2 linked regions of the Homo sapiens genome follow. The protein of the gene in region 1 interacts with the protein of each later gene in a pairwise test. Each region holds a gene or a part of one and is shown on either strand. Other genes may lie near its edges. The genes, in order: MCMBP and SMC3.

Region 1 (3,822 bases):
TCATATATTTTAAGTTAGGTGTCACAATAATCTAGAGTGTGCTGTCCAGGGCAGTAGCCATGTGTGGCTATTTAAATGTAAATTAATTAAAATTACACAAAATTAAAAATTCACCTCCTCGGTGTTAGCACATTTCAAGTGCTCAGTAGCTACATGTGGATAGGGGCTATTATATTAGCACAGATCTAGCATATTCCTAACATCAGGAAGTTCTCTGTACAGCACTGATCTAGAGGACACCGCTTTTTAGTATGTGATGCTAGTTTTTTTGGATAACCAGCTACTCACTGACTCTCTTTCAGGATCTGAATTTGGTCACTGTATCTTATCCGTTCTAGGGGTTTTGTTTTTGTTTTTGCTTTTTTTGTTTTTGAGATGGAGTTTCGTTCTTGTCACCCAGGCTGGAGTGCAACAGTGTGATCTCGGCTCACTGCAACCTCCTCCTCCCAGGTTCAAGCAATTCTGCCTCAGCCTCTGGAGTAGCTGGGATTACAAGTGCCTGCCACCATGCCCAGCTAATTTTTTTTTTTTTGAGACTGAGTCTTGCTCTGTCACTCAGGCTAGGGCGCAGTGTTACAATCTTGGCTCACTGCAGCCTCTGCCTCTTGGGTTCAAGTGATTCTCCTGCCTCAGCCCCCTGAGTAGCTGGGATTACAGGTGCATGCCACCATGCCCAGCTAATTTTTGTATTTTTAGTAAAGACAGGGTTTCACCATGTTGGCCAGGCTGGTCTTGAACTCCTGACCTAGTGATCCGCCCACCTTGGCCTCCCAAAGTGCTGGGATTGTAGGCGTGAGCCACCACACCGAGCCGCTAATTTTTGTATTTTTAGTAGAGACAGGATTTCACCATGTTAGCAAGGCTGGTCTCGAACAGGTGATCTGCCTGCCTCGGCCTCTCAAAGTGCTGGGATTATAGGCGTGAGCCACCGCGCCCGACCCAGACCCTCATCTCCAATGCTACTGTCAAAATTAAAGCCATCGTAGTCTCTTTCCTGGACGCTGGAACAGCCCTCTAACTGGTTTCTTGCCTCCAGTCTTGCTTCTCTTCCACCTGCCATACTGGAACCAAGTCCTTCAGTGACTTCTTGTTACCCTTACTATCTGATCCAGGACTTTTAAAGTGGTTTATGAGGCCCTTGTTGGCTCCACCCTTGCCTTGCTCTGAGACTTTATCACTGCGTACCCCCTCCTCATACTCCATCCCAGCCGCACTGAACCTTTTTTCAGTTCTTTAATTTTGAACCTGTGTCTAGGCCTTTTTGCATCTGCTGATTTCTTGTGCCTGATTCCCCCTCCCATCCCATGTCCACTTTTCTGGCTAAGTCTTACTTTTCCTTTGGGAACTTAAGTTAGGTACCAAAGTAGGGTACCCCTGCTCCATGTTACTGCAGGATCCTATTATATATGTCTTTGAAAAATAGTGTGTAAAGTGCATTGTTGAAATTCCTTGTTTCGGAAGTTCCTTTGCTGGATTTTGACCCCGCGAATTCAGGGCCCCTGTATCTGCATTATTCACCACTGTATCCTAATTTCTTAGAATTTGCCTTGTACATTGAAAGTGCTCAGTGGACACTTGTTGAACAAAAGCAGTGAAAAGACTGATTAATCAGAAATGTTGTTAATTGAAATGGCTAGTGAGATCACAAATCTCAAAATTTTTCTTTTCTTTTTTTCTGGAGTCAGTGTCTTGCTCTGTTGCCCAGGGTGGAGTGCAGTGGCGTGATCTCGGCTCACTGCAACCTCCGCCTTCTGGGTTCAAGCCATTCTCATGCCTCAGCCTCTCGAGTAGCTGGGATTAAAAGTGTGCACCACCATGCCTGGCTAATTTTTCTATTTTTAATAGAGACAGGGTTTTGCCATGTTGGCCAGGCTGGTCTTGAACTCCTGGCCTCAAGTGATCTGCCCCCACTTGGCCTCCCAGAGTGCTGAGATCTCAGGTGTGAGCTGCTGCGCCCAGCCTCTTTAGCTGTTTTCCCTTCAACTATTGGTTAGACCAAGATCATTATTCTCGTTATATTTAAGCTTCTTTGGTTGTATCTAACAGAACTAGACTAGCTCATGCAAAAAAGAGCAGGGTTGGGTGAAGAGGGGCAGAGCAGACTATTTTATCACTAGCATTTTAGAGAATTTAAAGCAATAATAAAATGAACTAAAAGTTAGTTGGTCTGCTTTTTATTATCACCATGAATCTAAACAGACAATCTGTGCCCTTATTGTCTGTACCCAGCTTGGACCTCTTCTACCACTCTGTCCTTGGTAGGCCACTGAAAAAAGTTAATTTATATTAAGGCTATAAAACCCAAGAACAGGGGAAGTGGTTGGGTATTCGAAGAGACTGAGTGGAATCAGGAACTGGAAAGCTAGCAGGAATCCAAGCAACTCAGTATTTCTTCTCTTGGGATACATTAATCTCTGCACACTTTCTCTTTCTCTACTCCATGTCTCCCAAATTTACTTGTTCTCGGTTCCAACCCACGCTAGCTAGCATCTTTATTTTCAGGCATAGAAAATCTGATTGGCACAACATGGAGTCAGGAATCCATTCACTCAGGGATCAGTCATCTGTGGCCATGGCACAGAGTTAGGTAGGACAATCGTGACTGTTATCCACACCTCAACATTGGGGGCGTTCTCAAAGAAGAAGAATAGCTCCGGCAGCCATGGCAGATGGCATACGTAGGAGTTTTTAAGTTATAATAACTTACACATGGTTTTAAAAAAAATCAACATGATGGTATGAACTGAGTGAAAGTACGTGCTCCCTCCATTGAAGTAACCACTTTTTTTTTTTTTTTTTTTTTTTTTTTTTGAGATGGAGTCTCGCTCTGTCGCCCAGGCTGGAGGGCAGTGGTGCGATTTCGGCTCACTGCAACCTCTCCCTCCCAGGTTCAAGCGATTCTCATGCCTCAGCCTCTTGAGTAGCTGGGACTACAGGCGACCACCACCACACCTGGCTAATTTTTGCATTTTTAGTAGAGTCGGGGCTTCACCGTGTTGGCCAGGATGGTCTCGACCTCCTCTGCCCTCGTGATCCACCACCCTCGGCCTCCCAAAGTGCTGGGATTAGAGGCATGAGCCACCGTGCCCTGCCTGAAGTAACCGCTTTTAACTGTTTTTGCTTTTAGAGGTTTTTTTCTTTGAGACAGAGTCTCGCTCTGTCACCCAGGCTAGAGTGCAGTGGCACGATCTCTGCTCACTGCAACCTCTACCTCCCAGGTTCAAGCAGTTCTACTGCCTCAGCCTCCCGAGTAGTTGGGACTACAGGCGCCTGCCACCACACCCAGCTAACTTTTTGTATTTTCGTAGAGATGGTGTTTCACTATGTTGCTCAGGCTGGTCCAAAAAAATTTTTTTTCTTTGAAATAAAATTCACATAACAAAATTTAACATTTTAAAATGTACAATTGAATTTTTTTTACTGTATTCATAATGATGTTGTGCAACCATCACCACCACTATCTTTTTCTCTTTTTTTTGAGACGGAGTCTCACTCTGTTGCCCAGGCTGGAGTGCAGTGGTGCAAACTTGGCTCACTGCAACCTCTGCTTACCGGGTTCAAGCGATTCTCTTGCCTCAGCCTCCCAAGTAGCTGGGATCACAAGCATGCACCACCATTCCTGGCTAATTTTTGTATTTTTAGTAGAGACGGAGTTTTACCATGTTGGTCAGGCTGCTCTTGAACTCCTGATCTCAGGTGATCCACACGCCTCGGCCTCCCAAAGTGTTGGGATTACAGGCATGAGCCACCACGCCCGGCCACCCCTATCATTTTCATCACTCCAAAAAGAAACCCCATACCTTTAGTAGTCTCTCCCATTTC
Region 2 (3,822 bases), 9.3 Mb from region 1:
ATTTATTTTAAAATTTCAATTATCTCACTAAAAATAATACTACAAATACTCAATACTCTTAACCAAGACACTTTTCACAACAGTTTGTACATTCCCATTTGTTAACAGAGTATTCATTGTCATTTTAAGATAAAATCAGTATATAAACTGTAATTATAACAAATTATAAAAGCTTAAAAAGTTTCAAAGTATGAAGAAAATCAGCTAAACCAATTAAATTCTCAACATTACTTTAAAAAAAAAGTTACTTACTGGTAACCGGTTGTCTGAATTATCAAAAATAATCTCCACAAAAGCAGAAATAACACGAGGACCAGTACCTTCCTAAAAATGAAAGAAGTGAGAAATTTGCCATTTAAGTTGTATATTCATATCCTTTAAAGGATTCTTAAAGTCTAGGGCATAATAACAAGTCTGATTCAATGGAGAAAAATTTCTGCTAGATTCATATATACACACACACACTAATCTAACGTCTCTGCTCTTTTGGCAAGAGGGATACATACTTTGGGGATATCCCCAGAGTTATAGTATATATCCCTCTTGCCAAAACAGCAGAGACGTTAGATTAGGACAACAAAACTTCTCAACCAAATAGCTTTTGATTCTAAATAAAAAATAAGAGCTATGCAAGACATGTCAAAGTTAGATATCCTTAAATATGATTCTACAGACCACTTTATTAGACTGCAAGACTGGGGACATTTAACTCTACCTATTTGCTAATATCTAATACACCATGAGGCTTTTCTCTTACAGTCTCATTTTAATGCTGCAAAGAAATCCTAATAAATCATGGGATAATTACCAAAAGTCTGTTTTTTAAGAAAAATTGAGACATTCTACAGTTTTAAATCTATTATAGAAATATACACATTTAACATGTGTCACATTTAAACCAATCTATGACACAAAAACTATGGTACCAAGTCCAGATACCTTCCAGATTATAGAAACTATGTAGTAAATACAATGAAGAACTGTACCAAAGAGGTTATTAATTATTTTAATGCCAATCTGAAAAACCTAAAAAGAATTTTTCTAAAGGAAATCAATTCTGATTACTGGGCTACAAATTCAAACTAAACAAGGGGAAAAGACAGACAAGAGCTAAACAAAACAATTTCCTATGTGTGAGAAACACTGTTAAGACATGTTGAGGAATTTCATTTTCTAGTCTTTAATAAACAATATTCAAATCAGAAGGATTAATCGTTTTATTGTAGTCTTTCATGATTTTCTATCCTAAAATTACTTTAGTCCATTACTCATATTTTTTTCCACATCACATTGGTAATGTGCCAATGTCCTAACAAGGTTTGAGGGAGGCATGACTCACATGAACACGAAAACCCAATCATCGTGCTTATGCATTACAAAAGGACCCACTTAATAAAATATCCTAACTCACATTACTGTAAATATACAGGTGGTCCCCAACTTACGATGGTTCAACAAATGGCTGAATGACAACGTGATAGCAGTCTACATTCAGTAGAAACCATAATTTGAGTATCCATAAAATCACTGTTTTTTACTTTCAGCATAGTATTCAATAAATTATATGACAGATTCAACACTTTATTATAAAACAGACTTTTGTGTTAGATCATTTTGCTCAACTGTAGGCTAATGTCCATTTTTGACTTATGGTATTTTCAGTTTATGATAGGTTTATTAGGACATAACCCCGCTGTAAGTTGCAGAACATCTCTACTGTTTTTCATACTGGAAAATGATGTTTACTATCTAAGTACAAATATGGCTAAAACAACAAACAACTTGTATGTTGTTTAGTTTGCAATGGTTGTTTCTCTATGTTCCCAATTAATTTTTGGTTCTGCATCTTAAAGTTCCTAATCTGCAACCTCAAACTCTTCTTTCTCCTCAGCAAACCTGCTTCTTAAGCCTTTGCAGATCACATCCTTAAAGAAATGTACATGGAGGACATACCCACCTATAGGCAAATCCTATAATTTTCTCCTAACCATCACATAAAAATTAGGCCTTTATCTGGCATTAACATGTTAGGCTAAATTTCACAGCAGAATAAAACACTTATGATATATATCATGTCTCCTTTAAGACATTTATATGGAGGACATATCCATCTATAGGCAAATCCTATAATTTTCTCCTAAACCACTGTATAAAAATTGGGCTTTTATCTGGCATTAATATGTTAGGCTAAATTTCACAGCAGAGTAACACACTTATGAGAAAGATTGTGTCTTGTTCACAAAGAATCTGAAACTTGAACAAATGCTTTTTTAACCAGCATGGAAAATTTATTTTTAAAATATATGTAATATCAATAATGTCTTAAAGCAGTCTCACTCACATGCAATAAAGCCAACCGCTGTTCTGGACGAAGATGACTAAACTCATCACTGAGAACAAACTGAATTGCTGGAAATACAAAAACAACTATTAGTATACCCTAAAAAAGTGTTTATAACTTATTTATAACTTCCCACACCTCAATAGAACATAGTGTGTCTGGTAATAGACAATGCAAATAAATTATCTGTTTCATATGGACAAAAGGAAATGCAGAAAATGTGCCTGCACATCAGACTAATCAGGTAGGAAATGATATAAGAAAAATACTGAGAAGTTTTCATTGAAACATTTAAGGTAAGGAAATAAAGAGAAACCACCGAAATACATGAAAACAGACAAGCAAAACTAAGGTATACCTCTGGCTCAAAGTGTTCACTGACTGGATTAGGTTAACACTGTATTTGCTTTTTTCCCCACTAGACATAAATGATATGAGTTAAAATCCTTTTTAACAAAATAGGATGTATTTTGAGAATATGCTTAAGTGGATACTTTACCAAAAGAAATAAAACTAAGGAAATACAGGGAAATGTTTGAGATGCCCAACTTATACTACACTTCTTATACTATACCGAGCTCTGTAAGAAGGGGCCGTTCCTACTTCGGTATAGAGTACCTAACTGGACCACCCTGCCTAGGAAGTGGAACTCTTTACTCAGCTGTTCTTGTCCCAGTCCACCCAAGAGACCTCTGGCACTGTGTGTGTGTGGAGGTGGTGGGGGTGCCCACATCAGCAAGTACGTGCATAAGCATTAATGTGTGTGCTGTGGACACAGGTCGAGGTGAGGAGACTTCACACTGCCCTGGAGATTCTGAAATACTTCCACTTCAGTCCATTCTCTCATCATTGCCAAATTACAACCACAATAGGATATACAGGCTAGAGAGTGCCTTTCAGATTCGTGTGCACAGAAGAGATAGAACCTTTGTTCTTACTAAGCCAGTCCACTAAATGCCCCTTTCCCTCAAGCATTACCCAACTAAAAAGTTCAAATTTTTCAACCTACTCCTTAACTGTCTAATTTTGTTAAAATGTTTTTCTCCTCAAAGGATTTGTTAACAGACGCATTGCTATTTACACTTAAATGCAATTTAGAGAGAATTTTTGAAGCTCTATTTACTATCTTCAAAGTGACAACAGTCTGTTCAGTTTCAAGTTTTTTATACCTCTTCATCCTTTACAAAGATGATTGGTTTAGAAAACGTTTTCAAAAAGGTGAAATAAGAAAGATGAACAATTTTCCAAAACAATACTATCAACTATTCTACTGCATTTACATACGTTTAAAATATGCATTTATAACATTTATATATTACATTCAAGTTTAAAAAGCATTTTCATACATACTATTGCATTCCATTCTTACAAACCATCTAAGGTAGACAGGGCAAACATCCAAACATCTCCATTTTTAAAGTGAAAAGAAAAATTTGAGAGGCTACGTGTTTTGCCCACTCTCACACAGCTAATCAGCCACT

The links.
Region 2: the proteins of MCMBP (region 1) and SMC3 interact in binary tests that used the Homo sapiens proteins (3 or more experiments, as listed by UniProt).

The regions. Positions count from the first base shown.
Region 1 is NC_000010.11:119,866,282-119,870,103, reverse strand, and holds part of MCMBP (mini-chromosome maintenance complex-binding protein), read left to right. Parts: intron 1-3,822. UniProt on the Homo sapiens protein: Associated component of the MCM complex that acts as a regulator of DNA replication.
Region 2 is NC_000010.11:110,573,923-110,577,744, reverse strand, and holds part of SMC3 (structural maintenance of chromosomes protein 3), read right to left. Parts: intron 2,410-3,822; coding exon 2,342-2,409; intron 1,386-2,341; exon of another isoform or gene 1,284-1,385; intron 325-1,283; coding exon 253-324; intron 1-252. UniProt on the Homo sapiens protein: Central component of cohesin, a complex required for chromosome cohesion during the cell cycle. The cohesin complex may form a large proteinaceous ring within which sister chromatids can be trapped.